Regions from separate parts of the Homo sapiens genome. Here all the other regions are linked to region 3. Evidence: fine-mapped expression QTL. A gene starts in region 3. Each other region holds a variant in brackets. All regions are shown on one strand. Distances are from middle to middle.

Region 1 (11,004 bases), 110 kb before region 3:
CTGGTTTTCTTGGAGCAGTTTGTGGTTTGTTAAACTACTATAAATAGCTTTTTGTAAAGAAGGAGAAAAAATGAATATATCCTTTTGAACTGAGTGATATGTAGTCCAGCCAGCTGGATACTTTAATGGAAGTACCTTGAACTAGAAATAAAGCTTTTCTCCCCTCATCTCTGCAGAAAAGCAGCCTGCAACCAGCATTCACTTTGAGTTGATAATGACTCCTGCACAGCCTATTTATTTGGAGAGGTCAAGATTACTTTCAAATATTTTGTTTCTTTTCACATTTTTGCACAGCAGAGTTGAGGGGTAGGAGTTTGATTTGTCCTTCAGGTTTATTGAACCTACCAAATAATACAGTGTGCTTTCAGGTGATACTATCTTGACTCATATAATCAAAATATTTTTGAAGAAAGAACTTAGAATCAAAGTTGTTTTTTAAGGGCAAGCACAAAACATTATTAAGATGCCAAATGTAAACAAATGCCGTATCTTTTTGTATGATAGGTTGGACAGCACTTCATGAAGCTAGTGTAGGAGGATTTTATCGGACAGCAAGTGAACTATTAAAAGGTGGAGCAGATGTAAATATCAAAGGATTATACCAGATTACTCCCCTACATGATGCAGTGATGAATGGACATTATAAGGTACTGTGATGCTTTTATTTGCAGAACAAATACTATATTTTGCAAATATTAAATATCTCTGGGACCACACAATAGAAAAACATACAGAAATTTTAGTTTAATTTCATTCTGCTAATGAATACTTAGAATTTATAATGAAATTTTACTGTGTGATGGGTTTGTTGTGTGTAATATGATAGGTGTCATTTTACATGTTACTTTTAATAACCATATAGAGCTTTTTGGTTACATAGTATTTTTTTTCAACTTGTTTTCCTTTAAAACTCCTTTAATATGGTGCTTTATAGGGTTTAGAAGAATGTTTCCTTCTTATAGAGTGTTACGCAGTTATGTCCAGTCCTGATAGGAGGTTTACAGCTTTATGGAGTCTGGTGTCACTTTCATAATCAGCCTGAGGCAGGATAATGTTTCTGATCAGTTCAGCTTAATGATCAGCCAGGATATATCAGCAGGTTAAAATATCAGACTACTATAATTGCATACCAGTTGGTTAATAGTAACTGCAATAAATGGTAACATTAAGATTATGAATTCTAGTATACATGGTTTATCTCAGAAACCATATTTATTTTAGCTTACTACACATTTTTTCTGGCCCTGGGACAACATTGCAAGGCTGAGGCACTTGCTGAAGATATCTTGTTATTCATTTCAGTTACTGAAAGTTGCCTCTGGGTTTAAAAACTTCTAGGATGGGAAAGGGTATTAACTATCTGGGATTAAGAAGATTTGTTCTGCCTATTTACAGAAGAAATGCCTAACACAGGCAGAGGCGGAGAAGGCTGCTGGGAGCCATGGGAATAGACAGGGCATATTCCTTCATAGTATGAAACAGTACTTCAGAAGGGTTTAGGCAGTTTTTTTTGTTGTTTGTTTTTCATTGTTTGTTTGCTTGTTTGATAATGTATATCTTGGTGATGGGTGGTCATTTTTGCATATAGTTTAGAGGACTAGGAGGAGAGAATTCTTCCCAGGATCCAGTTTAATGGCCAGAAGAATGCAGGCTTGGACATGTGACAGTGTGAATCCTTTCTCTGTCAGAAGCAGAGAAACCTCACGCCAAAGCACTTCTTCTGTCTAACACCATAGCCCATTTGCTCCCTCACTTCCCAGAGCTGACCTATACTGATCAAGAGTCTTTTCTTCCTTTGAGTAAAGTGAGCCCTGAGCATTTTAATTTTTCTTCTTTTCTTTCCTATTTGTTCCTTTGCCCCACTTCGAACTTGGCTCTAATCCATTTCTGCCTCACAGTCTAGCATTGGCTGTCTCCTATTTGGCCTTTGCATATATGAAATAATCTCTGGTTCCTTCAATGATGTTAAAGGAACCAAAGACACAGGCCTCTATTCCCAGAATCCAGTTTCCCCACTTACTGCATTCCCTCTTGCAATCCTCCAATCTGCCTGTGGTTCATATGCTCTTGGCACCATGGCATATCCTGACTAGTGGTGAGAGAAGAGAATGACAAGACAGGAGTGGAAGTCTAGAGAAAAGTCATGAAAATTAAAAGTTGAAACCAGTAGTTGGTGTGATGTCAGGCAAAGATGATCAGAGAAATGGCCTAGGCCCTGGGTATTGGATTGCTGAAATGCCTTTGGTGTCACAGGAGTAAAGATGTAAAACAGGGAAGCCTTGGGAACCCAATGCTGGTCCTACTACCTGGGGAGTGTGAGCTTCTTTAAGCATTCTGGAGTGTTGAAGGAACTAGAATATATTATCTTACAGGTCTTAATTGTTTTATGGGAGAGATACTAAAAGATAATATCCTATTTTCTAAAAGTGAAAAAGCAGTAAAAAAAAAAAATCCACATCTTACCATTCCATTAATTTGAAATATCCGTAATAGTCAAATCTATAGAGACAGATTAGAGATGGGGGGTCTAGAGGGTGGGGAATGGTGAGTGACAACTAATGGTTAAAGGGTTTCTTTTAGGGGGAATGAAAATGTTCCAAAATTAGATTGTGGTGAGGGTTATACAACCCTTTTAATATACTAAAAAACAATGAATTATATTCTTTAAATAGGTAGACTGTGTGGCATGTGAATTACATCTTAATAAAACTGTTAATAAATACATTTTTTAAAGAGTGGAAAAGTTAGAATTTGAGAATTACAAATGATCAGCTCAATGTTGTTCCTTAGAAAATGTGCAAAAAGTTATTAAATATATGGTTGGAAGACATAGGCAAGAATGTAGTGCTCTTTGGGAATCATAGGCATCACTAAGAACAAGTCATGCCAGACTAACCTTTATTTCTCTTTTATTAGGTTTACCTTGTTAGTAGGTAAAGGTAATGGCATTGAAATAAGCTATCAAAACTTTAACAAAGTTTTTATTTGAAGTATCCTGTAATCTGTGAGTGTATGGGATGTTGAAATGAAGGGGTTTGTTGGCATTGATTTGGGGATTCACATATATTGAAAGAATAGGCCTCAGACATGGTGATTATTCATTTTATGTGTGTCTACAGTGAACCCTTTTTTGTTTTTGTTTTTGTTTTTGTTTTAGACAAGAGTTTCCCCCTATCACCCAGGCTGGAGTGTAGTGGCGTGATCTCGGTTCACTGCCACCTCTGCCTCCTAGGCTCAAGCGCTTCTTGTGCCTCAGCCTCTTGAGTAGCTGGGATTGCAGGCATGTATCACCATGCTCAGCTAAGTTTTTGTATTTTTAGTAGAGATGGGGTTTCACCAGTTTGACCAAGCTGGTCTTGAGCTCCTGGCCTCAAGTGATCCGCCCGCCTAGGCCTCCCAAAGTGCTGGGATTACAGGCAGGAGCTGCCACACCTGGCCTTGCAGTAAACTCTCTTGTGAAAATTGATTATACATTATATTATGTGGTAGAACTCTGGACTGTTTGGCTAGAACATGAACTGATTTTGTTATTGGAGTATTTTAAAGAAATCCCAGACATAATACTATTTTACCCATAAATACTTGAGCCCAAACCTCTAAAAGATAAGAAAAAGTTTTTCATACTCGCGATATCATTTCACCTAATAAAAGTTAAGTTTCTTTATACCATTTAACATCCAGTCTATATTCAGATTTCTGAGGTTATCTAAAATATGTGTTTTTATAGAAAGTTTTAATTTGAATTAGAATACATTAAGCCTCATACATCATATGTGTTTGTTATGTATCTTAAATATGTTTTAATCTACAACAGTCCTTTCTATATTTTAGGATTTTTATGTCTCCTATTTGTTGAAAAAAGTGGCTTATTTGTCCTATAGAATTTCCCAAATTCTGGTTTTGGCTCATTTTATCTTTGTGGTATTGTTTAGCTTATTTCTTCACATATTTTCTGTAAATTGTTATGTTTTGATGGAAAATCTACTTAGAGACCACAGTCTGGATGCAAGGTATGCTCATTGCTATTGGATGTTATTGCTTTTAGGCGTTTTCAGTGAACTATATCCTTTTAGAAGGAAAAAAAATCATGAGTTTATGCTGATATTTTCATTTCAGACTTCATAGCATAGATTTATGCTTAACTTTCGTTCTCTACCTACTCGTATGTCTTTTTTTAAGCTAAACATTTGTTTCTTAATACAGTAATTGAATTATTTCTTTATCATCTAATATACTTACAATATTACTACTAACAATGCCAGTATTACTATTAACAGTGAAACTACTAATGATGTTTATTTTGGTAGTTCTTTTTCTTAAAGTATATGCTATTAGGGATGAAGAGTCAGAATACTGTCTTTTGAAGTACAAGTTGAATATTCTTTATTTGCAATGCTTGGGACAAGCAGTGTTTAGGATTTTGAATTTTTTTTGGATTTTGGAGTATTTGGACTTTAAACCTTTATGATCACATGGTCCATACCATGGAAGTGGGTACAAAAAATTACAACTCTGAAAGCATAAGACATTGAATCACAACAAAGGACACAATCTAATTGTAAAAGCTATAAAATGTCTTGGAGAGAAAAATGCCATACATATCACAGGGACAATAACAGTCAAATCCCTTAAAAATTATTAAGACACAGCAACCTAAAAATTCTACCTTTCAAACTACTTTACATTGGGAATTTAAGGCCAGCTAGGGAAATTGAAAGCAATGGTAGATACGATTAAATCTATAATTCATATACAAGCCATATACAAGCAAAACATAAAGAATTTATGCCTGGATATTTACATTTTGTTCAGCAAAGAAAATACAGAATGCATTGGTTTCTTTCAGGAAAAATAGTTTTATAAGGAGGTTGCTATAAGAGCTGTGGTGTTTATCTCTGGATGTTTTGTGTCAAATTCAGGATCAAGGAGCATGAGAAAAAGGTACGGAGGAAGGGAAAAGGCAGAAGCTAGAGCCTCACTCTTCTGGAAATCCAGTTGGTGATCCCAAGGGAGTGAATACATTACTTTGGCAGTAACTAATACTTTGGCAGTCCTTTCGCCAACTATCTACACTTACCAATTCCTCTGTAGCCCAATACTTGGAATTCTGACGCCTGCTTATGTACTCTCTACCTTTAAAAAGCTCTCTCCTCACCAAAGAGTAATAAATGACTTTCAGTGAGTGTCCACCTACTTTAAACCTACATTTAGGTTCTGTATTAGTTATCTGTTGCTACCTAACAAATTACCACAAAACTTAAAATAATAATAAACATTTATCATGTTGCAGTATCTGTGAGTCAGGAATTTCAGAGTGGCATAGGTGAGTTGGTTCTGTCTAAGGGTCTCTCATGAGGTTGTAGTCAAGATGTTGACTGGGAACACAATCAACAAAAAGTTTGGGGTTGGAAGATCTGTTTCTAAGGTGGCTCACTGACATAGCTACAGGCAGGAGCCATGTTCATTGCCACATGGACCCCTCCATAGAGCTGCTTGAATGTCCTCACAGTATGACAACTGGCATCCCCCAGGGTTAATGAATCAAGATTGAGAACAAGGAGGAAGCCACAATACTTTTTAACCTAGCCTTAGAAGTCACATACTGTCATTTCTGCCATATACTATTTGTTAAAAGCAAGCCACTAAAACTCCAGCCTGTACTCTTGAGGAGGGAAATTAGGCTCTACCTTTGGAGGCAGGAATGTTAAATTTACAGACATATTTTAAAGCCACCAGGGGTTCTTAACTGGAACAAGAAGAGAAATTTCAGTAAGTGGCTAGCATCACAGTCATCACTTATTTAGCTTAAACAGTAGGCCCCTTAAGGAAATACACTTCTACTTAAAGCTTGCCCATGGCTTTTCACCTTTGATCATACTATTGATTCAAGTACTTTCCTCCCTCTAGAATCAGCTGACTTTCTTACATAAGAAGTTAGTAGGATAGAGAATAAAATTCTTTCAAGTCCAGGTTGAGCATCCCTAACCGAAAAATCAGAAATCCAAAACTTTTTGAGTGTTGACATGATGCCATGAGTGAAAAATTTCACACCTGATTTCATATGATGATTGCAGTCAACACACTGGCACACAACATACAATTTATTCAGTCACCCTAAGAGAAAAAGACCCTCTTAGCTCCCTTCAGCTGCAATTCAGCTTTTCTGGACATGCCCAGATTCCTTCATGCAAGCACATCCACAAAGGGTAATAAAATAGCACACGTTCAGATCAGACACACCAACACCAGGTTCCCCACGTTGCCCCACATGGGGCCAAGACCTATGTGCATTACTCACTGTGGGTTTTTTGCTTATTTTCTGCTCTGTGGTATAAATATATTATTGAAAGTGTCAAAAAGGCCTGCATCATACCCATAGGGTAGTGCAAATATTCCAAAATCCAAAATTCTAAATACTGCTGGTCCCAAGCATTTCAAATAAAGAATATTAAACTTGTACTTCAAAAGACAGTATTCTTTCTCTTCATCCCTAATGGAATATACTCTAACAAAAAGAACTACCAAAATAAACATC[G/A]TTAGTAGTTTCATTGTTAATAGTAATACTGGCATTGTTAACAGTAATATTGTAAGTATATTAGATGATAAAGAAATAGGTAATTCAGTTACTGTATCAAGAAACAAATGTTTAGCTTAAAAAAAGACATACAGGTAGGTGGAGAACCAAAGTTAAGCATAAATCTATACAATGAAGTTGGAAATGAAAATATCAGTATGAACTCAAGATTTTTTTTTCCTTTCTAAAAGGATATATTTCACTGAAAATACCTAAAAGCAATAACATCCAATAGCAATGAGCATACCTAGCACCTGGGCTGTGGTATCTAAGTAGATTTTTCATTAAAACATAACATGAGAACAGTATGGGAGAAACTGCCCCCATGATTCAATTATCTCCCACCAGGTCCCTCCCACAGCACATGGGAATTATGGGAGTACAATTCAAGAGGAGATTTGGCTGGGGACATGGAGCCAAACCATGTAATTCCACCCCTGACCCCTCCTAAATCTCATGTCCTCACATTTCAAGACCAATGATGCCTTCCCAATAGTCCACCAAAGTCTTAACCCATTTCAGCATTAACTCAGAAGTCCACAGTCCGAAGTCTCATCTGAGACAAGACAAGTCCCTTCCACCTATAAGCCTGTAAAATCAAAAGCAAGTTAGTTACCTTGTAGATACAATGGGGGTACAGGCATTGGGTAAATACAGCCATTCCAAATGAGAGAAATTGGCCAAAATGAAGGGGCTACAGGCCCTATGCAAGTCCGAAATCCAGCGGGGCAGTCAAATCTTAAGGCTCCAAAATGATCTCCTTTGACTCCATGTCTCATATCCAGGTCATGCTGATACTAGAGGTGGGTTTCCATGGTCGTGGGCAGCTCTGCCTTTGTGGCTTTGCAGAGTACAGTCTCTGTCCTGGCTGCCTTCATGGGCTGGTGTTGAGTATCTCTGGCTTTTCTAGGCACATGGTGCAAACTGTCAGTGGATCTACCATTCTGGGGTCTGGAGGACAGTGGCTCTCTTCTCACAGCTCCACTAGGTAGTGCCCCAGTAGGGACTCTCTGTGAGGGCTCCAAGCCCACATTTCCCTTCAGCACTGCCCTAGCAGAGGTTCTCCATGAGGGCCCTGCCCTTGCAGCAAACTTTTGCCTGAGCATCCAGGCATTTCCATACGTCTTCTGAAATCTAGGCAGAGGTTCCCAAACCCCAATTCTTGACTTCTGTGTACTTGCAGGCTCAACACCACGTGGAAGCTGCCAAGGTTAGGGGCTTGAACCCTCTGAAGCCACAGCCCAAGCTCTACATAGGTCCCTTTCAGCCATGGCTGAAGCAGCTGGGACACAGGGCACCAAGTCCCTAGGTTGTACACAGCATCGGGACCCTGGCCCTGGCCCGGGCCCATGAAACCATTTTTTCCTCCTAGACCTCTGGGCCTGTGATGGGAGGGGCTGCTGTGAAGATCTCTGTCATGCCCTGGGGACATATTCCCTATTGTCTTGGGGATTAACATTCAGCTGTTTATTACTTATGCAAGTTTCTGCAGCTGACTTGAATTTCTCCTCAGAAAATGGGATTTTCTTTTCTATTGCCTTGTCAGGCTGCAAATTTTCCAAACTTTTATGCTCTGCTTCCTGTATAAAACTGAATGCCTTTAGCAGCACACAAGTCACCTCTTGAATGCTTTGCTGCTTAGAAATTTCTTCCACCAGACACCCTAAATAATCTCTCTCAAGTTCAAAGTTCCACAAATCTCTAGGGCAGGGGCAAAATGCTGCCAGTCTCTTTGCTAAAACATAACAAGAGTCACCTTTGCTCCAGTTACCAACAAGGTCCTCATCTCCATCTGAGACCACTTCAGCCTGGATTTCATTGTCCACATCATTATCAGCATTTTGGTCAAAGCCATTCAACAAGTCTCTAGGGAGTTCCAAACTTTCCCACCTTTTTCTGTCTTCTTCTGAGCCCTCCGAACTGTACCACCCTCTGCCTGTTAGCCAGTTCCAAAGTTGCTTCCACATTTTCAGGTATCTTTTCAGCAGCACCCCACTCTACTGGTACCAATTTACTGTTTTAGTTTGTTTTTACACTGTTGATAAAGACATACCCAAGACTGGGCAATTTACAGAAGAAAGAGGTTTAATGGACTTATAGTTCCATGTGGCTAGGGAGGCTTCACAATCATGGCATAAGGGGAAAAGCACTTCTTACATGGCAGCAGCAAGAGAGAGAATGAGAACCAAGAGAAATAGATTTCCCCTTATTAAGCCATCAGATATCATGAGACTTATTCATTACCATGAGAACACTGTTCATAGAGAAACCGCCCCCATGATTCAATTATCTCCCACTGCGTCCCTCCCGCAACATGTGGGGATTATGGTATTACAATTCAAGATGAGATTTGAGTGGGGACACAGAGCCAAACCAGACCACCACTCCAGGTCTCTTTTGCCATTTGCATGGTATGTCTTTTTCCATCCTTTGACTTTCATCTTGTTTGTTATCTTTGAATCCAATGTATGTCTCAGATAGTATATTTTTAAAAAGAATCACATCTTACCATCTCTGCCTTTTGATTAGGTTGTTTAATCCATTCATATTTAATGTTGTTATTGATATGGTTGGATTTAAACCTGCCATTTCCCTTTTTGTTTTCAGTCTATCTCATCTTTTTGTGTTTTTCCCACCTATACTGCTTTTCTTTTTACATTAAGTGAATATTTTCTGGTGTAACAATTTAATTCCTTTAATGATTTTTTTAGTATATTTTTGAGTTATGCTCTTAGTGGATGCTCTAGGGCTTCTTAAGTTATCAGAACTGACTTCATTCTTATGCTAACCTTTTTCCAGTGAGATATAGAAACATTGTTTCCGTATAACAAAATTATTTTTCCCTATTTTTGTTCTATTACTGTTATACATATTATGTTTGTATATTTTATAAATACAATATATTGTTACAAATATTACTTTATATGGTCTTAGGTCTCTTAAAGAAGCTGAGATAAGAAGAGCAAGTATTTATTTATAGAGTTTATTTTATTAAGCTTCCTATTTTACATTTCTGGCTCTGTGCATGTTTTCCTATAGATTCAAGTTACCAACTGGTATCATTGTTTTACTCCAATTCAGCTTTATTCTGATCTGCCTCTTTTGTGGTATTATTATCAAGTATATTACATTTATAAATGTTATAGGCCTTGTAATACAATATCATATTGTTTTATGCCATTGCTTTTTAAATCAGTTAAGGGAATAAAGGAAAATAAATATACAATCATATTATCTCCCATAATTATCTGTATAATTACCATTATTCATAGGCTTTTTCATGTGGATTTGAGTTATTGTCACTTGCTTTCAGCCCAGTTACCTTTAGTATTTCCTTTAAAGCAGGTCTTCTACCAATAAATTCTATCAGCTTTTTTTTTTTATCTGTGAATGTCTTTATTTTGCTTTCATTTATAGTTTTGCTAGATATAAGATTCTTGCTTGGCAGTTTTTTTTCCTTTCAGCATTTTGACTGTCTCATCCCATTGTCTCTGGACCTCATTGTTTCTAATAAGTGAGATACTAATTTTATTGGGGTTCTTATCTAAATGATAAGTTCTTTTTCCTTTGCTGCTTTCATGATTTTATCTTTGACTTTTAACATTTTGACTTTGATTATGTCTAGATATATATCCCTTTTGTTTATCTTTTTTGGAGTATGTTGTGCTTCTTAGATGTGTGCATTAATGCTTTGCATCAGATTTGGCAAGTTTTCAGCTATTATTTCTTTGAATATTTTTCTCTGCTGCTTTTTCTCTCTCCTGTCTTTCTGGAACTCCTGTAATGTGTATGTTGTTGTGCTTAATGGTGCCCTATATTTCTCTGATGTTCTATTCATTTTTCTTCATTCTTTTAAAAATCTGTTCTTCTGATTGTGTAATCTTTGTTAATCTGTCTCTCCAAATTCAGTGATTCTTTTTTTCTGTCAGCTTAAACTTCCTGTTGAGGCCTCTGGTGAATTTTTCTTTTCAGTTATTATACTTTTGAATTCCAGAATTTCCATTTGATTTTTTTAAAACTTTCTGTTTATTAATATTCTCTATTTTATAAATTATCAACATATTTTTTCTTAATTCTTTAAACATGGCTTTCATCAGCTCTTTGAACATATTTATAATAGCTGTTTTAGAGTGTTTTTTTGCACATATAGGCCCTCTCAAAGCAGTTCCTGTGGCTGCTTTTTATCCTGTGTATGGGTCATACTTTAGTGTTTCTTTTCATGTCTGTCTTTCTCTCCTTCTCACTATCTCTCTCTCTTTTGAGACAGAATCTCACTCTGTTGCCCAGGCTGGAGTGCAGTGATGTGATCATAGCTCACTGCAGCCTCGAATTTTTGGGAACAGGTGATCCTCCTGCCTTAGCTGCCTGAGTGGTTGGGACAATAGGCATGCACCACCACACCCAGCTTTTTAAAAAATTATTTTTACTTG
Region 2 (11,004 bases), 900 kb after region 3:
TCCTTCTTTCCCCTCCATTCTATCTGTGAGTAGTTCAGGTATGGAAAATCTACAGAGGCATCATCTTTCCGATCAGTAATATCACACTCCTGTAGCCATTAACACCCCTGTAGAAAGGGTTGCATGTTATTAAAACAGAGATGGGCTAGGACATTCACCCACTTGGCCCCAATTCAGAAGATTATTTAGGGCTATTCAAAACCAATGGACCTGGCAGCACATTCTAGTAGAACTATCCACTGCTCTACCTCTTACTTTTGATTTGTTAATGAGCAGGAAATAAACAATATGCCAATAAGTAAGGCTTTAATGACTTTGCAACATATGAACTTTTCAGCAAATGTCATTTTTATAAGATAGAATTATGTGCAGTTTATTTGGAAAGTAGGACTACCCTACCTTTCCCAGGTTCTAGGCTAAAAATCTCATATACTTATATACTTAGGGCCAGAATTTACTGTGAGTAAATAATTACCTGAATGGTTATTAAAGTTTGAAATTTCCCACAAAGTTGAGGCAACTTTGGTCCAGAAACTTTTAAAGGTAAGTATTATCTGTGGGCATAAAATAATCTACCTATGGCACACTCTAAGGTAGTATTTTGAATTGCTCTTCTTCTGAGAGGCTACAAAATGTAGCCTCATTTATTTTTTGTGTCTGTCAGATGGAGACCTCTTTAGCAACAGAAATGGTTAATAGTTGCCTGAAGAAAGCTATTCTGCATGGTCCAACAGAGACTCAATGACAAAACATTATGCCAAATCATGTCTTTCCTTTGAAATCATGGCCCAGAAAAAGGGGTTAGCATCAAAGAGGAGCTTTCTAGCTGTTACTTTAACTTGTAAAGATTCTAATCCCTAGGTGGCACTGGTTGGTATTAACCTGATACAGGGTGTTGGTCACTAGCAACCTCCACTGCTTGAGCATGGATGTGTTGGGGAGCTTGTCACTACCCATCAGCAAGCAGGCTGCACCCCAGGAGCCAGCCTCTGACAATGGCAACAATCACCAAGGCTCAGGAGTGAGGTGGCCTCATAACCACAGGGTTCCAGTGTGAGGCCTTGAATCTGGTTACTTCACTACACAGGTTAAGCCAGGTGCCAAATAAGTTGCCTATACCTAGAATAGGCAAGTGAATATATTTATAGAGTAAATAAATGGATGAATGCCACTGAGTATAAGGTCAGCAAAAAACTCTGGGTCTGGAGCCAGCCATCTCAGCTTGATAAACATGCCGAGAGGAAACAGGGCATGTCCCATGACTACAGCAGGCTTGGATGCACATAATACAATTGGACTCTTGATTCTTGGCATCTGAGAACCTTGAGATCCTCATGACAAAATAAGAGATAATGGGAGGCCCAAACCAGTTGGTAGGACTGTGTACGGGTCAGATTAGGTCGAGGCCCTTCTGTTTGTAGGACTAGAAAAAGGCAATAGCACTTTCCCACCCACTTTCTTTTCCCAGAGTGCTCTCCTTGCCCTATTTTGGGCATTTCCCCACCTACACTTTCAGTCATAGGTCACATAAACAAAGGGAGGTGAGTGAGAATCTTCCAGGCCAGTGGTTCTCTGAGCTTTAAAAATATACCAATGCTGAGCCCACCCCAGAGATTCAGATGTAATTGGGTGGAGGAACCCCAGGGAGTGGTATTTTTCACAGCTTCCCTAGATGATTTTCAAGTGCAGCTGGGGTCGATAGCACCATCCTGGCCAGATATTAATCCCTCTCCCCTCCAGCACATACTTACTTCTTAATGTGAATAGTTAAGATGTATAAGAGCCATCTCCTTTCCTTCCTTTAAAGAATCGGAAGGGTTATTTTCTCACATATTCACTTTTAAGTACAGTCGTCCCTCGATATCTTCAGAGGATTGGTTCCACGATGCCCATGCAGATACCAAAATCTGAGGATGCTCAAGTCCCTTATATAAAATGGTATATGATGGGCATATCACCTATGCACCTTTTCCCATATGCTTTAAGTCATCTCTAGATTACATATAATACCTAATACAATGTAAAAGCTACACAAATAGCTGCCTTTACTTGTATTTTTTTATTTTTATTTATTTAAGATGGAGTCTTGCTCTGTTACCCAGGCTGGAGTGCAGTGGCGTGATCTCGGCTCACTCCAACCTCCACCCCCTGGGTTCGAGTGATTCTCCTGTCCCAGCCTCCTAAGTAGCTGGGATTACAGGCATGCGCCACCATGCCCAGTTAATTTTTGTATTATTAGTAGAGACAGGGTTTTGCCATGTTGACCAGGCTGGTCTTGAACTCCCGACCTAAGGTGATCCACCTGCCTCGGCCTCCCAAAGTGCTGGGATTACAGGCATGAGCCATTGCACCTGGCCTATTTTTAAAAAATATTTTTGATCTGTGGTTGAACCTGTGGATGCAGAACCTACGGATATGGCTGGCAGACTGTGTTGCAGAAGACTGCTTATTCAAAATGATGAGGTCTGAATTAATTGTTATTAAGGATATTCCTTGTGTTTAGGGAGCATAAGATCAAAAACACACTATGATTTTATAAAGATGTTTTTATGTAAGATTTTTGCACAATGATATAAATTAGTACTTTAAACCAATTATTACTCCATCCCCAAGCAAAAACAGCTGCAACTAATAAGCAACCAATGACTAAAAAATTAAAAAGAAAAGCAACGAAAGTTCATGAGCAATCAGTAAGATTGCTATGACATCACCATGGATTCAACCATGACCCTGCTAACCCCACTGACTTGGCCTGTGGATCACACTATCACCCCATAGCAGGCATGGCATGGAATCATCCCTAATTATTTCAAAATGGCAAGATTACTTTTTTAAAAGGATTGAGCCTTTTAAAACTTTTTAGAACCTTTCTGTGATTTGCATGCTTTTTGAGATCAGACTCCCAGATTTTATATTGTTTTTCAAGGCAAATTGAAGTGGGGAGTGGGCTACTTCTCCTGAGCAGTGGTGAAAAGGGGAATTGGGACACTAATTAAGATATTTCCCTATTTTTTATGTGATTATATTCCCACTCTGTCTTCATTTTCCCCAAAGTGAATAGTCTTCAGTCTTTTCATTTGTTGAAAACCTTTCATGTGCAATTGTGTTATCATTGAAGATCTTCTCTAAATGTGTTAAAGAGAGGAAAATTGGCAGTAATGTTTCTCAATTGATATTTCCAAACAATACAATTTTAAAAATACATTCAAAGCAAGAAATGTGTACCTGCACTAGTAACATGAACTCTATTCCATGATATTTTGGATGGATTCATTCAAAAGATGTAAGATGGAAAAAACACACATCTTCTTTTATAGCTGTAGGACATTATTGAGTTCCTCAATGTGTTATTTTTAGATGAGAGGTTTTCAGAGAAAGAATGCAACCTTCTTCAAGCATATTCAGGAAAAGCTGTTAATCCATGTCTGGTCCTTGTCTTGCAGCCCTGCAACCCTCTTTGCTCCCCACCTACAGGATCCATGCAATGATGAGCTAACATCCCCAGCTAGCGCATCCAGTGCATCACTGGTTGGTGGGCAAAACTTCCTCTTGTGATCAATTTTAGTAACTATAATTCCACCTTACTGCTCTTATCTGAATGTGGCAGAGATTTGCTAGCTGGCCAGCAAACCTGTTTCTTCTTCCTCCTGGACACTTAGCTGGTGGACACAAGTAGATTTGCTGAGTAAATGTGGTCACGTGGTCAATTCCTGATCAGTGGATTTTAGGCAGAAGTGATAAGAGTCCCTTCCAGCCCTGGTCCATTAAAAACCTCCTACATGTGATCCTCCATGCTTTCCTCTTGTAAGTTACACTTGATGATGGGAGAGCCACAAGATGAAAGGAGCCTCGGTCACTGGGTAACTGAGTCACCCCTTAAAAAGAGGTGCTTATTAATCAAGAATACTTGGTTTGAAATGTATGTGAGCAAGAGATAAACTCAGTCATTGTGACTTGGGGGTTCTCTTGCATCTGTTGCAGCAGCAAGAGTTACCTTAACAGACACATTGAATACCTGTTGCCATCTTCTTGGTTTCTCCAAGTCCTTTTGAGGACTAGGGCCCCACAATACTCTTATCAGTTGTCACCACAGGTTTGGAGCCATCCCTGAACCCCAGCTGAGTGAAGTGAACCTTGACAGCTACTATCTTAATGCTAAATATCCATCTGGCCTGTGGAGAATCTTACCTCTGTATTCTCTCATCACTGGACTGAGGTGCTTTGGCAGATGTGATATCCCAGTGCCAACTTCTTGTTTGCTTCTTTTCAAGGTTCTCTGCTCAATCTCACTATAAGCCTGACCTCCCTGCCTCAATTTGTGTCCCCTCATTCCCTTGGTACATTTAATTCTATGTTCTGACACCTCCCAGTCTGTTTTATTTGAACCACTGATGAACATCTCCTGCCCAAACTTTAGGCCAGTGGTTCTCAAAGTGTGGCCCCTGAGTCAACAGCATTAGCAGAAATTCAATTCTCAGGATGCATTCAAAATCTACTGAATCAGAAACTCCAGGGGTAGCTCAGCAATCTGTGTTTTAATAGCCTCCCCCCTCCCACAGGTGATTTTGAAGCATCCTCAAGTTTCAGAACCATTGCTCTAGAATTCAACATTCTGGAACATGGCCTTCGGCCTTATCCACCAGGACAAGCATTAGAAAGCAGTTGTGCTGTGATTTCCTCCAGCAGAAGAACATGTCTGGAATTTACCCAGATAATCCTGGCTTTTCCATTTGGTGGTGATCTTTAGATATCCCTTTGAAATGAAACTTAGAGTTCCTAACACTAAGATAAAGCATTTTGATTAAGTACATGACTATAAATTACAGTGCTTTTCCAACATGAAACAAGCAGAGCTCTTCAAATCCTTTTATTGTGTGTTTTCTTTTTAACATAGCCATGAAAATTAGATCACCACTAGAAAGCCAAGAGCAAGATCCATATTTTCTGGAAAAATATGCTGAGCTTAAATCTCAGTGTGCTGCTGATGAGGTCACCTTTCATCTCTAGAGGGTATTTGATGCTGACTACATCATGTTTAAGGTTGCAGAATTGACTCTGAAAACACCGATTTTCCTTTTAAAAATGTCTTGTCAAACAGTGGTCCCTGGGGATAATTAAATGATGAATATCCTTGTTCCTTCAAAAAGTCAACATACTAAAATATGTAGTGGGTCACTTTGAGACTGGTTTCCTTAAGAAAGTGACAACTTGGTGAAGATGATGAGACACTACAAGTGTTGTTTTTTTCCTCTGACAGCCTTAATGACCATGGAATGTTTCTTCAGAGTGTTTGGAATATTAAAGACTCCCTGGAGAAAATGATATTTGAAAGCCAGGTACTCTTTGAAAAGCAGACGAAAAGAAACTAAAAATAAACATTTTTAAGTACACGGAAAAATGGACAGTGTCAACATTGCGAAAAC[G/A]ATTCCACACTCTCACGCTAATGATATGCAGGAATAGTTGAGAGTTTTCTATTTGTGTCTTAAATATTTTATGGTAACTTTGAAAGATTTCCAAAACTCAACAAGACACAAAGAAAAGTATCACTTTGTGGGTTACAGTCAAAGTTCAAAGCATAACCAGTGCAACCTCATGGAGGTTACAGCCTAAACGAGCCTCCACCATCCTGAGTCCCAGACTTGGTCATTGTCAAGCCCATGTAGATGGGGAAGCATTTTGCATGCAGGAATTTATGTTTGGCATTCATTTTCCAGCTCTAACTGTAATACAAGCTCTGAGAAGTAAATATGTTTAGACCTGAAGGCTATTTTTTTACCCATGTTGGAGCAATGATGCAGACTCCTATGAAAAAAAAAATCAAATAAACAATAAAGGTAAGAGAAAGGAAAGGCTGAGGATATTCAACTTATTTAAGACAAGTGCAACAAATCTCAACCAACCCCTTCAGATTTCTTTTCAGACAGGAGCAATAGAGGCTAGTTCTTATTTATACGGTTGGCTTCTAGTCCAGATATGTTTATTTCCAAAAACGTTTAAGATTCCTTAAAGTAAAAGGTTGAGATCATTGTCATCGGCACCAGCATCGCCAATCTGTGTGAGATGTTTATGCTTTTTTAGTTCAGTTAATCCCTTGGAAAGTGTGACCAAATGCTTTTTATACTGTGCTTCCATCTGGTTTTAAAATGCCTACATCTTTTGAAGGAAGACACTCCAGCAGTGGGGCTATACCAAAACCTCAACCTTGTTCAAAGGCATATCAGTATCATTCTCTAAAGTTTTTGATAAATTATCATCATCAAAATTGATTTTTAACACCATGTTTACATGGAGCTCTGTGCTATATAATAGTCAAATTAGCAGGGAGTTATATTTCTAAAAACTTAAGACTTGAGATAGCACTCACTAGGATGGACATTAGAGAAATATGCACTACCAGCCAAACCATGTTTAGTCAAATATAAACAAAGCAAGCATCTACAGAAAACATTAATATCATGAACAGGGAAAAGGGTCATACATGATGTGGTATAAGGAGCAGTGGTGGCTATTGCAAGCTTAAATGGAACAACGGTTATAACATACACAAAACACACACCACACACACCACACACACACACACAACACACACTTTCCTGGTTTTGGCACTACATGGAGATCTTCCTTATGGGTGGGTTAAAAGGCTGCTCATGTTTTCTACACCTTTGCCCACCAGGTTGGATCTCAGGAATGCATTTCTCCCTTTTTGTTTTAAAGTTCAATCAGAAAGAACCTCTTTCCAACCAATGAGTATTTAAAGAACTCCTCCCACGAGCTTGCAAATGGTACCGGGACAGAGGATGCTGATTTTTGCAAAGATAATCATCATAAGCCTTCGAGTTAGAGAAACAGAGAGCTACCTTATCCCAGAGTGACAGACAATATTTTGCAGAAGATATTAGAGGAAAGCAGGATCTTCCATAGAAATCAATTCATAAAGACATCATCTTCGAAACCTGCATTTGGGCAAATTATAAGCCAAAAAGTAAAATTTAATAATGAATACATTGAAGCAAGCAGCAGACACCTAAACATGGATAACAGTGTTTGAGGCAAGATTACCATGGAACATTCAACAGGCTCTAGACTGGACCAATAGAGGGATGGCTCCCTTAGCCCCACAGGTTAAAGGCTGTCTCTGGGGCCTCCATGAGAAGGGAATCAGGAATGCTATAAAGCTTAGGGTATACCTTCTTATTAATTGCATGCAGTTAATATTTGAAAGTTGCATTAGCTCTTACTTCAGAATATGGGCGTAATCATTCTCATCAAGCCCTTTTATCATCTTCATAAAGTCTTCAGTTAAAAATTAAAGCAGAGGTAAGGGACTGTCACTTTTATTATTTGGATTATGTTAAATATGTACCTTCATAATTCAAATAATTGAAATAAAATGGTTTAATTGTAAACAAGAAAAAAAAATCTATAGGAATAAATATAAGAGATACCAAGGTTGAGAACCTACTTTGCTACTACAACGAAGTTATGTGAGAAGAATGGAAAATACCAGGTGAATGGCCCCACTAGAGATGCCTACCTAGGTGGGCCCTAGATCCCATGGTACCCAAGTTTTCTTGCTTTTCAGCTTAAACCTCCATAGAGAAGCTGCCACTTGATTTCCTGCTTTATGGGAACTACCTCCCCATGGCCTTGTCTCCTCAACGTCAAGGCTGAGAGATGCCTCTTCCCCTGAGTAGTCATCTCTTCAGTCACTTCTATTCCTTATTTCCCCATCCCTGTCCTGACTAAAATCACGTACTCATCTCTGCTTTTATTAGGAGAGTGACTGGTTTGCAATGAATGATCCCTCCTCTTCTAGTGGGACTCTGTTCCTTCCTCTTACAGAACCCAAGTAAAGCAATGTCTTAAACATGAAACAAACACACCATCTACTTGGCAAGTATTGCTCATGGGTACTAATGGGAGTTTGGTTACCAAGCTTATCTGGCTCAGTCCTGGGCTTGGTGAACATAAGCTATACAGCCAAAATAGAAATGTGGTAGTGAACAGGAAAGGTAAAAGGCATTCTAGATTCTGTGCATAGACACAGGGAAGATAAGTTTGTTCATTCATTTAACAACTATTTATTAAACTTACACTGTGTCAGGTGCTATGTTAGTCAATGCGGATACACAAGAAAAAAACAAATGAAAGAGTGCAGATAAGAAAGATCTTTAGGAAATGGATGGGAAGCCCTTGAGACAAAGAACAGCATCATTATAGTCCAAGCAGAACAATACTTCCTCAATCCATTAAGGATTGACAAGAGGGCTGATGAACACAGAGATTGAGAGAGAGTCCCGGTGAAAATTCTCCACAGCCTTGACCATTGGTTCTTAACCATTTTTTCTGCTGCAATATTCACAGCAATGGAATTCACAATAGGCTATATATCCTCATGGGTATGACCAAGTACAGAAGATAGGGTTGATTATAACAGGAAATCCAAAATAATGGCTTAAACAAAAAGAACCTCTCTATGTCCACCTTGATCTTGATCTCTATTTCTAGAGTCCAGGGTTGGAACAAAGCTCCATGGTCATTACTAATCCATCTATCTCTATACCTACCATCTTTGAGTCTGATTTCTAACCTAAAGTCACTTTGTGATCCCAAATGGCTGCTGGTGAACCAATCATTACATCCATAGTACAGGCAACAGGAGGAAGAAATCCAAAGTGAGCCACAAAGGCTCCCTTCCCAGTTAAGTCTGCTTTCTTTAAGCAACCTTTCTAGAAGTCTCAGACACTATTTCCTCTATTTCATTAGCCAGAACTTAGTCATATTGCCATACTTAGATGGAGAGGAGGCTGGGCACATTGCCACCACAAATCAAACAGAAGTTTTGCTAGAGGGAAGAGGAGATTGGGGAAGCAGCCAGGTCTGCCTCTGCCATACCAGGGTTACACACCGATTTCCAAAGCACTATCACCAACTCCACCCCTCTCTCTACTCCTCGGGTAAATACATAAATCAAAGAGGAATATTATTACAGGGCTAACCTCGTACCTATATTAGTTGGCTTTTTAAGAATAAACTACTTGCAAACTTTAGGGATTTATGTGCTATTATCTTGACACACCTCAAAATCCACTGTAATTTACCAAGGTGTTGTGACATTATGACTGAGAACGCTGCCTATGTAAAGTAGGTAGCTGTGTTGATGAAAAAAAAATGGAGTGAGAAAATGTGAAGGAAAAAGTGACAGGATGGATTCTGCAGAAAGATGACTTACTTTTAGACATGAAAAGATGTGAGAAGTAAATTATTTAGAGGCTTTTTCTAGGAACGTTAGCAATCTGGTTGTGGTGGTCATAATGGAAATACTCTTAACAAAATACTCTTGGCCTCAGGGCCTCTCACAGAACACCAAAAACGGTATGTGTTGGCTTGGTGGCCCCTACTGGACCATGCCTCCTGGAATTCATGCTTTTGTGAAGCCCCTTCCCGTGAATCTGGGCTGTCCTGGGACCACTGAAACCAGAAGTGAAACTGTGCCAGTGGTCAGCCTACCTTTACAGAGTCCTAGAAGTTTATTTTTGCTTCTTTGCTCTCTTGAGTTGCCATGTAAGAAGTCTGGCTACTCCACTGGAGAGGCCATATAGAGAAGTCCCATGACTACATGAAGAGAGAACCCAGTAGTCCCGGCATTCCACAAAAATACAGACCCCCAAACTCTCCACCAGCTGATTGCAGCCACACAATGGCCACTGGCAAGCCCACATTACACAATCATTAGCAAATAAAATGGTTGCTTTTTTAAGCCACTACATTTTAGAGTGGTTTGTTACCCAGCAATTAATAACTAAAATGCCACTACCCCAAAACATATCTGCAGGCTTATGATGGGACCCCAGCCAATGTGGCCATTACAGCTTGTGCTGCCACTGCTGTGACTGCCAAGACAGCCCCAGCTGGTCTCTGCAACTGCAGCCAAGAGAGTTTGTGCCCTCTGGATCCCTTCAGTCTCCCACCAGTACCACTTCCCCACTTAAATCCCTGGTATGTGCTTTCTTCCAGACCCTTTGCCCTGACTCTGGCAGGAGCACACCTTGCCCTGTATCCCTGTCCAGTCTCCCAACAGGAACTTGTGCCACCCCTTCCCCAACTTTGGAACATGCACCTCAAGACAGCCAGTCTAATATATGTATGTGTGTGTGTGTGTGGAGGCAGGAGGACAGTTCTAACTATACATGGGTCAAGGCCTGTCCTGGAACCAAGGTCAGAAAAATGATCTCCTGGCATCTTCAGTTGGAATCTGCAATGCATTTCCCCATAAAAGCACTATTGTAGATGATTTCAGGTCTTGTAGTACTACTCAGCTATGTTGCCAATTAAATAGACATTTGGGGGCTGGTCTGGGAACATAACTACACTTTATAACGTTGTCCTAATGAGAAACAAAATCCAAATAACTGGCTGAAAAATGAACCTTTGAAAGTAACCTGATTATAAGTCAGAAACTGTCATCCTATGTTGAATACCAATTTTGTAGTAGATGCTGTAGGGGAAATAAGAGAAAAGTTTGAGGCTTCTTCCCAAGAAGTTACATTTTATTTGGAAGATGAAGACACACAAGAACAAACAGACCAGGCAGTATATAAGCAAGTCTTAAACTGTGTGAGACTGACAATCAAGTGTTTCAGAGTTGCAAAAGCAAGCCCAAATGTTTCTTTTCCATTATTTATTTACATTGGCTTCTAGATGCCTGTTTTGAGATGTCTTGTGGACTCAATGTTATTCACAATTGCCCAAGTGCTATTTCACTGTTAATGGAAAATAGGTGGGCAGGTACAGGAGGCGTCTGGATTCACCTGGCTGTAGAGAATAGCTGAGTTCTGGGGCTTAGGGATTAGCTACAGGAGGGGAATAGCCAGGTGGCTTCATAGAAACCCAGGCATCTTTATAGCTGGCGTCATGAAGAGCCACCAAAGAGGTCCCACCCACTGTGCTTCTCAGCTTGTGATCTGGGAACATTTGTATCAGAATCACATTGGGGAACTTACT
Region 3 (11,004 bases):
ATGTCTCATGTGTCCTGAATTAGATGAGATTTTCTTTTGGTCAGGAGCTGTCTTTTATATTTTTGTACTCTCCCATAGCAACCAGTGTAGCACTATGCACAACCAAGACTCAGTGAATCACACTAGAATCAAAAGCATTTCAAGCTTAAATATATTTTTAAAGATAGCCAGCAGAAGATTCAGCAAGTTACCTGCTTGCCAAGCAAAGGAAAATCCAGGGAAACACATTAAATCATCAGATACTCAGCCCAACACTAGACTTCCTGCTTGCTTTCCGTTGCTAGTCATAGTTGCAGATTCTTATCAGAAAATTTTCAAAACATGCCATGATCTGGTCGTCTGTGTATAACTTTACACATTGGTGAGATCAGATACTGAGTTTTAATTGTCAATTTCTGCTGGCATACCATCCTGTAATGTAATTTCTTGTTTTTTACTCAGCTTCCCCTCAACTTCTCAGTGTTCTGAGTGCCCTCAAAGTTTCATTCAACCCCTATTTCTTTAAGATAATCAGCGAAGTTCTGCAGAAGCCCACTAGATCCTATTAAGTCTCTGAAGGCCTAAAGGAGACTTCAATACACTTGCAAATCCTCTGAAGGTTTAGTGAAACCAGTTCAGATGTCTGGGGAAGGTTTTTCACAATTCCAGTTTGAGATTCACGTAGCTGTTAGAAAAACTTTCCATTTCTTGCAGGATTCTCTTTTTCTTTAAATGCTTTCTTTGGACCAAAAACAATGCAATAAATACTGGAAGGCTGGCCCACGAGCCAACATCATGGGGACATTCCTAACTGAGGAATATCCATGCAAATATGCTTCATATCAACTCTATAAATGATTTGCTGTTTGACCTTTGCGAGTTACTTGACTGTTTGAACCTTGGGATCCTTGGTTATAAAATATGATGTCCCTTTCTCTGATGACACCCAGGATTGTCATAAAGATCAAATAAAATTACTGAAAGAAGAGAGCACTTTTTTTCTTTTCTTTTTTTTTAGAAGGAGTCTCACTCTGTCACCCAGGCTGGAGTGCAGTGAAGTGATCTCAGCTCACTGCAACATCCGTCTCCCAGGTTCAAGCGATTCTCCTGCCTCAGCTTCCCAAGTAGCTGGGATTACAGGTGCCCGACCCCACGTCGGCTAATTATTGTATTTTTACTAGAGACTGGGTTTTGCCATGTTGGCCAGCCTGGTCTCAAACTCCTGACCTCAAGGGATCCTCCCGCCTCAGCCTCCCAAAGTGCTGGGATTACAGGCATGAGCCACTGTGCCCAGTGAAGAGAGCACTTTAAAGCATGCTAATTGTTATAGCATTACAGCATGCTATTAGTACAGTAAGAGTAATTCACCATGTTCTTATACTCAGGATGGTAGGTATTTGCATCCCTTCAGTCTTTCATTTCTGCATGAAACTCAAGAAGCAAAATTCTGCCAGCATGCTCTTCCCCTTGGAGCTGTGTTTCTGAGAAGCTCTCCTTATTTCTCTTTGCTTTTTCAATTTTTCCCTCACAGATGTGTTTGAATCACCCTCACCTTTGAGTGAAGTCTTGCAGCCGTATCCTCAGTGAATGTGCCCCTTTGGCTGAATTCCTTGTGTACAGCTGCCATTTGGTCCCTAGATTTTCATTTGGCTTCAGTTAGTTGGCTCTTAGTGACGCCTGTCTTTATGTTCTCAGTGCAAGGACTACTTCTGTAACTAGAGTTTCTTGGAGGGCAGGGGCTGTGACTTACACCTCTTTGCATCCTTAGCTCAGGCAATATGTTTTTATTAACAATGACTTTTGGAGACTGCACCAGGTTAAACAGCATTCTCTGAAAATTCATGTCCACCTGGAACCTGTGAAAGTGACCTTATTTGGAAATAGGGTTTTTGCCAAGTAATCAAGTTAAAATGAGGTCATACTAGATTAGGGTGGGCCCTATGTCCAATGACCAATATCCTTAAAGAAGAGGGAAATGTGTTTGCAGAGGACACACAGGAAAAGGCCAGAGACTGGAATGATGCATCTGCAAGCCAAGGAATGCCAGGAATTATCAGCAATCACCAGAAGCTAGGAGGGGGCACAGTGGGATCCCAGCCTTGCTAACACATTGATTTCAGGCTTCCAGCCTCCAGAGCTATGAGGAAATACATTTCTGTTGTTTTAAGTTGTGCAGTCAGTGGTATTTGTTAGGCAGTCCTAGGAGAATAACACAGGAATGCTGAGCACAATGAGCATGCTTACAATGTGGCAGAGACCATTCTGGGGCCACTACCATCTTTGGGCAACCCACTTTCAGAAGACCTGCAGGGCCGGTTACAACAAGTTTTTAAGGGATGAAAGAGAGTAACCTGGCCAAGCGCAGTGGCTCACATCTGTAATCCCAGCTCTTTGGGAAGCGAGGCAGGCAGATCACCAGGTCAGGAGTTTGAGACCAGGCTGGCCAATATGGTGAAACCCGTCTCCACCAAAAATACAAAAATGAGCTGGGCGTGCTGGTGTGCGCCTGTGGTCCCAGCTACTCAGGAGGTTCAGGCAGGAGAATCGCTTGAACCCAGGAGCGGAGGTTGCAGTGAGCCGAGATTGCACCACCTTACTCCAGCCTGGGAGACAGAGCAAGACTCCGTCTCACAAAAAAAAAAAAAAAAAAAAAAAAAAAAAAGCGTAACTTAAGGCAGTGAGTAGAAAGGAGAGGGAAACAGCTGGGTATGGTCTGAGAATAAAACAATCCAAAACAAAAATTGGAAACTTTATGATGAATAGGTTTTTAAGAAATAGTTTGCTTTAGGACAAAATAGTTGATTTGGAAGTTGGAAATAGAGGAGCAAGTGAGTGAATGGATATCCACTTTATGACATGATACACGCAAAATAATAAAATTGACCTCTTTAGGAGGAAGTGCATGTATTTCCTAGCATGGCTTGTTTGAGATGTGTAAGCTGTGGTTAATGATGGCTAGTGGTCCCTTTAAATTCCAGTCTTGGAGACCTCAGTGGTTAAGAGCATGGACACCATTCAGACCACCCACTTACTGGCAAGTTATGTCACCTCACCTGCCTCCCTCTCATCATCGGTAAAATCAGAATTAAAATAGCACCTCCCTCATAAAGTTGTGAGGATTGAAAGAGTTAATCCGCATAAATTGCTTAGAACAGTGCCCAGGGTGGATAATAGAAGCCTTAATTGTTTTTACCATCATGACTATCGCCATCATCATGTGCAAATGAGGGAGACCCAGGAAGTGTAAATTATTATTCCAGAAAGAGGCGGTCCCATGGGGAGAAAATGAAGGCAAAGCTGGCCATTTGCTTGAAAGTACGTCTGTAAAACGAATATTAAAACACTTGCTCTCCGAACACAGGGAGTTTTTAAAAAGGCGTGGGGGCTGGGGTAGACTTAAAGTCTCTCTACTGCTTTGGGCAGATTCCAGATTCTGGGAGTGAAGCATATGGGGACCCATGTGACCCTCCCTCTTTGAGATTCACTGGGTCCTAGGTCCTAGGTCCTACCCAGCTCCCCACCCAACAGCCATGCACATTGCAGGCCCTCAGTCAACACTGATTGACGCAAGGGATAAAGGAACAAACCGACTGGGATTGACTTGTCTGGTGCCACTCCCTGCCCTGAAAGGCAAGCCCTGGGAGCCCCCGGCCCCGAAAGGACGTGGAGCCTCGCGGGAGACTCCTGGAAGTGCGTGAATAGCAAGCACAGCGTGGTGCGCCCGCTTTACAAAGTTAGCATATTCACAAGAACCCGCTCGGAAGGCCAAGTCCTTGATGTCGGCCAATTGGTTAAGTGGCTGTGTGCTTTCTTTCCACTGCACTTATTCGGTGATCCCGATTGGCGTCCGCACAGCCGCCACCCTCACTCTCGCTTGAGGATAAAAAGCAAGCCGATTTGGCATGTAGGCACTGTTTGAAAAACAACTTTGCACTCTAGTTATTCGGCAAAAAGCTCCACCTTCCCACGCTGCTGATAATATTTCTCGCGGCTGCGTGGGACACTCCTCGTCTCACCCATGAGAGCGAGCTGCCTTCTGTCTGGTTGGGCGATTCCTGCAGGGCCTGAGCCTCCGCAGAGCCCGGCGTTCAAGGAGAAAAAAGGAGCCGCGGATGTGAGTTTGCTTCGTCACTGCCTTGTGAGCGACTTTGGGCAAGTTACTTAGCTCTCCTGACCTCAGATTTCTTGTCTAATGTGGGAGGGAACCGAACGTGGATGACGCTCCGGGCAGCGGCGGAGAGCCGAGATCACCGCGCGCGCCTGAGAACTTTGTCCGAAGCGCGGCCCGGGGACTGGGAGCGCAGGGCAGGGAGCTCCCTCTGCGGGAGCGCGGAGGCGCTCCTACTTTCTCCGCACGTCACGGGGGCCGCTCAGCGCTCTCCCACCCCGGGCCGGGCGAGAGCGGCTCCCCAGCAGGGCGACGGAGGAGCGCGGCGAGAGCGAGCCGCCGCGGAGAGCCTGGGAACCCAGAGCGCAACCCTCGGCCCCCGCCGGGGCGGCCTCCGCAGCCGCACGGACCCCGCGTTCGGGGCTGGCCCGCTCCCTCTCGTAAGTCGACTTGGCCACGCGGGGGAGCGAGGGTCGCCCGGGGCTGGAGATGTTAACCCGGTCTCAGCCTCGTCTCCGCCGGGACGCCCCGACCCTCTGCTCCTCACGACTTTCGTTTTCCCGCCGGGGAAAACTTCGGCGCCGCGTCCATCTCCAGGCGGCAGGCGGGGGCGCCCTCTCGGAGCCGCGCGGGGAACCGGGCTGAACCCCGGCCTCTCTCCGCGCCTGCAGGAGCCCCGGGGCCACCAGAGCGCGCGGCGGACGGACACAGCGTCACGGGCCGGGTGGGCGACCCGGCGCGCGCCTAGCAGACGCCGCAACTTCGGGGCTCCCCGCGGCAGCCGCCGCCTGCGGCCAGACGCGGGGAAGTTCCCCGAGGCCAGCGGGGGGAAAGGGCAGCGGGCGGCGGGCGCGGAGCGTGTCCTGGATAACGGGCGCGGGCCGCGGAGCCGGCTTCCTGGGCTCGCGGGCGGAGTGGAGCCGCCAGGCTGGAGTCGCGAGCGCGCCGGCGCCGGGCTTTCCCGGGACTCTCCCCAAGTGCCAAGAAGCGGCTCGTGGGCGCGCCCTTGCCGGGAGCAGGGGCATCCCGCCGTCCTGGCCCTTCAGAGCCCAGCGCCGCCCAGCCTGGCCCGCGCCGCTGCGAGGCGCAGGGGGCCCGGGGGAGCTACTGAGCCCGGCTTCGTGACGCTTGCCTTTCGGAGCCGCTTGCCGCTTCTCCGCAGCCCTGGACCAGAGGGGACAAGCGATGCTGCCCGAGCCCCCGCCCCTGGGCTTCGGGACAGGGACGCGGGGCGCCTGAAAGGACTGCTACCGCGGCTTCTGCGCCAGGGCAACCGGGGCTGGAGGGGGCCTCCGAGTTGTTCTTTGGGGGCGGAAGCTGCGGGCCGCGCCTCCCAGGCCGCGCCCTTCCCAGAGACCAGTTTCTGGGCTTTTTAAGGTCAAGTTTTTTGTGCCGCAGAGCGGGCCGGGATCGTCTGCCTGCGAGGTGGCGGTGCCTACCACAGCGGGTCGGGAGCTTCTGGGATCCGAGCCGAGAAACGGGACGCTCGAGTCCATTTGCAGTCTTCACGTAGGAAACGGTGCTAGGTAAACGGGGCGAGTGGGTGTTTTGTAAATTTAAAGACTCAGCTTTCCCTGACGGGGAAGTTTTCCGAGTCACGTAGTCTGGGAAACAGTGTATTGTCCCCTCGTTGGGCAGGCAGAGAGGCGATATTGGCCTTGGGGCACTTTTTAAATTCATTTTTTTCTTTTTCTTTTTTTTTTTTTTTTTGTCTTTAAAAATGGAAGAACAACAAACCAGAAGATTAACAGAGTTGGGGCTAATATAATGCGTTTAATTGTCTCATGTGAGTAGACAGAAGTCGCCCTTTTTGATCTTGCATTCATAAAACATGTCCCTATTAAAGCATCAATAAGCCTAAAACATTCTAGAAACTAACAGTTCATTCTGACAGCTTTTGTTGATAGTCTCTTAAGGAAGTAAAATCTTTAAAAGTGAAAAAGTGAATCATTATAGAGAGCATATCCTATGTTGCACTTTCTAAGGATCCAATTTTGTGTGAGAAATGACCAGTTAAGATGTGTTGTTGATTTATCTCTTTCTGGTATCAGGAGAGAAACAATAGCCAAGGAACTGTGTGGCCGCTGAATTTTCTATGGGGAGACTGAAAGGAGTTTCCTGCTGCGGGGTGGTGGTGGGATGAGAAGGTTTATACTCTTTTCTTTGGGGGAAAAAGTTTATACTGATTTGCTAAATGTCACATCTCCTGCACAGAGGTAGGTGGGGTGAATGGCATAGTCGGGCAGTCAGAGTTAGCACTTTATGGCACCTGGCCAAGTGCCTTCAAGATAAGCAGGCCATAAATACAGGTGCTTCCCAAACTGACTTTGAATGACCTATGGTTGTTTTCTAGGAAGGGAGAGGGAGAGAGAGCAGGTAGAGGGCCCTGTACCTGACGGTGCTGTTTCTGCCTCATCCTTGACCCACGGGTGCTGGGAGCATGACCTGGTGACCTGGGGCTTATCACAGCACCACATAGGAGAGGTAAAACGGAGTCAGCTTCAGGGGATTTCCTTCTTAGGCTACAAGGCGGGAAGAAAGCAGTGAGACAGTAAAAATGAGCAAAGCAAGGCTGAAAAGTGAGTTCTTCAGGCCACCTGTGTTGAGCACTGGCTGTGAACCAGGCTGTGAACTGTCCCAATGTGAACAGCGCATTGGCTGCTGTGAGGCGCAGATGTGCTGCAGCTCACTGCATCTGTGCTGAGGCAGGAGGCCTTGCTGGGGAGACTGAAGGTGGGCTCAAGGATGAGTGGGAGCTGTGTAAACTAAGCAGCCATGGGGGAGGGGAGAGGTGAGAAAGGGGAGTATTCCCATCCCCGGGAATGGTGTGTGCTGAGACCAGAGGAGAGGAGAGCCTGAGAGGTGGAAGAAAAGACAGGTTCAGTATGACCTGAGGGGAGGATGGAGAATGGCACCGGGGAGGCCAGCAGATACCACTGCCAGGTGATGCCAAGGGGCATTGTGGCGAGTGGATCCTCAGGACAGTTTCACACCTGATAGTACGCAGATGAGATATGGATTAAAAGCAAAACAAAACTCCAGCTGCCCCGTGGAGAATGGACTTGAGGAGCCCCTAAGTAGACAGGGCTGGGTCAGAGGGTGCAGGAGGCCTGGCAGTTGAGACTGAGGTAGTGCCAGTAGGGATGACACGTTGGGCGGATTCAAGGCCGGCTCTGGAGAGACCTGGGGCTGAGTTTTGTGTAGGGTGTGAGAGCAGATGAGTTTTGTGTAGGGTGTGAGAGTGCAGCGTGACTCCCTCTAAGCTTGGGTGCTGGTATTTACGGAAACAGGGAACATTGGAGGAGGAAAGACAAGTTTGGTTTTATTGGGTCTGGGCAGCTTTCGAGGCTCCTAAGTGGAATGGCTTCCCTAGTGGCCACATAGTGCACTCGCTGGCTGACTCTCCACAGATGGTGGTCCTCTGTACGAGGGGTGTGGTCTGAATCCTGGGGTGGATGGGGTGGGGCGAGGCGGTGGTGTCTGAGGACTGGAAGCTGCTCCCAGAGTGAGAGGTGGGACGGAGGGCTAGGTACTTTAAGATGAGGGAGCCTTAGACATATGTGAATGCGATGGAGCGAGTTGGAAGGAGAAGCTGAACACACAGGATGTCTGGATCCCCTCCCCCTTGGATTGCGATGGTATTTTGATATCAAGCTCATGTAATGTAAACTGTCAACATCTTACAGAAACAGTGTTTTAAAGCACGTGTGACTGCGAGTGATTTACTTCACAGATCATACAAATGTAATGTTTAGGAGAAACATGGATGATAATCACGCAACAGAGATGCAGCATGGCTAAGAGCAAGGCCTCGCAGTGAGACTGCTGAGCTCCTGGGTCTGACTCTTGTCACTGCCTAGCTTAGGACCAGGCCCAAGCTTCCTGACATTCCTGTCTCAGTTTCCTGGTCTCTGAAACGGCACCACACCTAAGGGGTACGTGCTCTACAGCACCTCCTTGTGGGCTGTTGTAAGGATTGCCTGTGTGCATTATGCAAGCACATAAAGTGCTCAGTAAACCTTAGTGCTGGTGGTTTTATTATCATGATGCCATTTCTATCATTTCTGGTTGTAGAATCTGAAACGTAGAGAATGTTGAGAACCTGTCCAAGCCCATACAGCCAAGGAATGGCAAAGTTAAGGCCAGGATCCGATTTGCCTGACTCACAAGGCAAGGCACCTTCTACTTAATGTGTCAACAAGTGTCAGGTGCTCGATGCTGTATAAAATTAACTGTAATAAAGGGATCCAGTCACTGCTTGCCAGAGTGTAGTGAAGCAAAGCAGATAACATCAACATTGAGGCTTACAGACTTTTCTCAAGCAATTTAGAGATGTATGTTTTGTATTAATTTGCATTACTTTGCATGTCATTTATATGCATTCCCATATGCTTGTAATTTTCCTAGTGGGATCTAAAGACTGAAGCTTCAAGTATATAAGAGAAAAGAAAATTAATCAGGAATTGAATGCAGCCGTTTCCATCCTAATAGATCTCTGGGGATGGTGGGCTCAGTGTGGGCATTTGGAGACAGGATTGGATCAGTATTTACTATTTTAGATGTGGGGAGCCAGATATCATTTGATAAAGGTAGCTCACAACTTAATATGTTATGAAGTTTGATCTGCTGAACGTAACAGAAAAATACAGGCAAAGTGGAAGAAGACCAGAGGAAAAATGTCTACCATATAAGATGCCAGAAAATGAAGCAGAAACAGAAGTCTGCTTTATGAAGCTGAACTAATAAGAAACACTAAGGGGCAGAAAGGAAAGATTGAATTTCTGCTAAGCGATATGAAATGTTAAAAAGAACAATCTTAATCACAAATGTGTGAGGCTTCAAAACCAGTAAATTCTTCCCAATGTGGATTTACTGAGAAACAGGCCATCGGGTCTTAGTGGAATCTTAGAACTACAGAGTATTACAAAAACAAACTACAATTTTGTTACTTAGAGCAGCGGTTCTCAAAGTGTGGCCTCAGGACCAGTTACATCAGCATCGCCTGGGAACCCGTGAGGCTCAGCAATTTGTGTTTTAATAAGTTCTTTAAATATTTAGAGCCAGCTTTCACTCCTCTATTGAGTCATTACTTCTTCAGCTTTAACCTTTCCAGGTCCGTCTTGTGGTCACTAGCTTCTCACTGGGCTGCTTAACTTCTATCAGTTACTACCCAGCAGAGGGATGTAGCCAGACATGAACTCATTTCTCAGGGTGTCTGCTCAGTACAGAGCAGAGTGGGTTGGTCCCTTCCTTAGTCCCAAGGTCTAAACTGTGGAAATGCTTTCCTTTTTGGGTGGTACTATTCATAGAAACAAGGATTTGCAGCCTGCATTCAGCTTTCGCATTCTGCAGCTTTGTGGTTCGCATGCTGTCCAGGAGCACGATGGTTTTGGTTTTGTTTTTGTTTTGCTGCATTTTGCTTTCTTTTGACAGTCTCGAACTAAACTGTGACTCGTGCCAAATGTATGGTCAGCCAAAACACTGAACTGTCCTCTAGAGATGCTCTTGTCAAACCACGTTTCTCCACGAACCACAATTCTCCATGAACCAGGGTTCTCAATTAACGAATACAGTTAATTTTTTGCACGTGTTAGTTTTGTACTTCTCTCTGTTAAAATTTATCTTACTAGATCCAGGTAATCTGCTTGGTTCCTATTTCTGTTATTTTCCATATAAGCTGAGTCTCAGCTTTGTGTCCTTTGCCAATTTGGGTGCTGATATCCTGGTTGAGGGGTTAATAATAACGTGAGCATCTTTGTTAGAGGCCTTCCTCACAGTTAATGAGGCTCAAAAACTTGGCATCTTTTGCAGTCCTTCTGGGTTAACATCAGAGGAATAGTTGTCATCAGTGCAATCATTGTTTGCATTTAAATTACTGTTATTCTAAAGTCCTCCTGCACATGGTTTCTCTTTATAGGGCCCATGTTCTAGAACTACATCCTCGGTCACTGTCCCAGTACAGCCATCTGTAGCACCTCCTCAGTAACTGACGGTGATGTTCCTTTCCCTACGCTGTTTATACCATCAGCCTGGGGTTTTCTTTGGAGGTGACACAAAGGTAAGTTTCAGTTTATTTATAGTCAGATTAAGATGAATTCAGAAGCTTCAGAATAATAGGAAGCAAAAAATTGTGCCTTGTAATTTCTCTCTGCTTTACCTACCTCCCCCAAGCTCTAAAACCTAAGAGTTTTGTGCTAAAGTCTAGATTTAACCAAGAGATTCAGGTTATTTAATTTAAAAAAAAAACCCTAAAATGTTGCTCATACATGATTCTTAGAGGAGTACAATTAGGTAATATAATTGCAGAAAATTGTTTTTAAAGGCAAAAGGCAGAACAACTTTGTGGTAGGAATGCTTTTAGCTGTGGTTTCTAGAGCATGAAAAAGTACCTGGAGTCCTAAACTGTTGTATCATTATCCTTAACTAATCCAAGTCAAGCCTCCCCCAAAACCCCACCCACAGTGAAATTCCAGCCTTAAACCAAACCTCAACATCTCAATAAAATCCAGCCACTCTCCTCCTCCAAGATGCTCCAAAATGCTTCCAAACCTCTTTTGATGCCATGTGCTCCCTTGCCATAGTAAGCAAATCAATAATAAATAAATAAAATGGAAAAAACACCTGGTGATAATAAAGTTCTTTGTAGTCTCAAGTAAATCTCTGTTGTAGGGAAGGCAAAAATTTACCTCTGCACTCCTACAGTTTTTCAGTTGGGCCTGAGAATTAAATTGACTTAAGAAATATCAACAGGAGACAAGCACACAAATTTATTTAATATAAGTTTTATGTGACAGGGGAGCCCTCATAAGGAAATGAAGCCCCAGAGATGCAGTGAGAATTGAACACTTATATAGTGGATTGGAGAAAGTAGGAAATTATAAAAATGTAGCAAGGCAAAAAGAGGCCTGGGCTAGGGT

Direction of the effects. Positions count from the first base shown, and alleles are read on the strand shown. Sizes are in standard deviations (SD) of each study's normalised expression. Not every link is listed here.
For the expression in prefrontal cortex of the gene that starts at base 5,484 in region 3, G is the low allele of the variant in region 2 and A is the other (moderate effect, 0.70 SD a copy in ROSMAP).

What was found. PIP is the estimated chance that this variant, and not a neighbour inherited with it, causes the effect.
Region 1: its variant is the best candidate, but not a certain one, in a credible set for the expression of GCNT4 in whole blood (INTERVAL, PIP 0.65).
Region 2: its variant is the best candidate, but not a certain one, in a credible set for the expression of GCNT4 in prefrontal cortex (ROSMAP, PIP 0.66).

Annotation. Positions count from the first base shown.
Region 1 is chr5:75,158,622-75,169,625 of GRCh38, reverse strand. ANKRD31 (ankyrin repeat domain 31) reads left to right here. Exons shown (of 26, transcript NM_001372053.1): 11 at 505-647. Among named protein-coding and RNA genes, the nearest start is that of ANKRD31, 73 kb to the left of the region's middle. The variant G/A (reference allele first, on the strand shown) is at 6,536.
Region 2 is chr5:74,147,415-74,158,418 of GRCh38, reverse strand. No RefSeq gene overlaps it. Among named protein-coding and RNA genes, the nearest start is that of LINC02122, 50 kb to the right of the region's middle. The variant G/A (reference allele first, on the strand shown) is at 5,424.
Region 3 is chr5:75,047,038-75,058,041 of GRCh38, reverse strand. It overlaps GCNT4 (glucosaminyl (N-acetyl) transferase 4), which reads left to right and starts at 5,484. Exons shown (of 4, transcript NM_001366737.1): 1 at 5,484-5,613; 2 at 5,815-5,873; 3 at 10,005-10,145. RefSeq lists an enhancer at 1,792-2,382 and silencers at 4,228-4,597, 4,718-4,767, 4,988-5,237.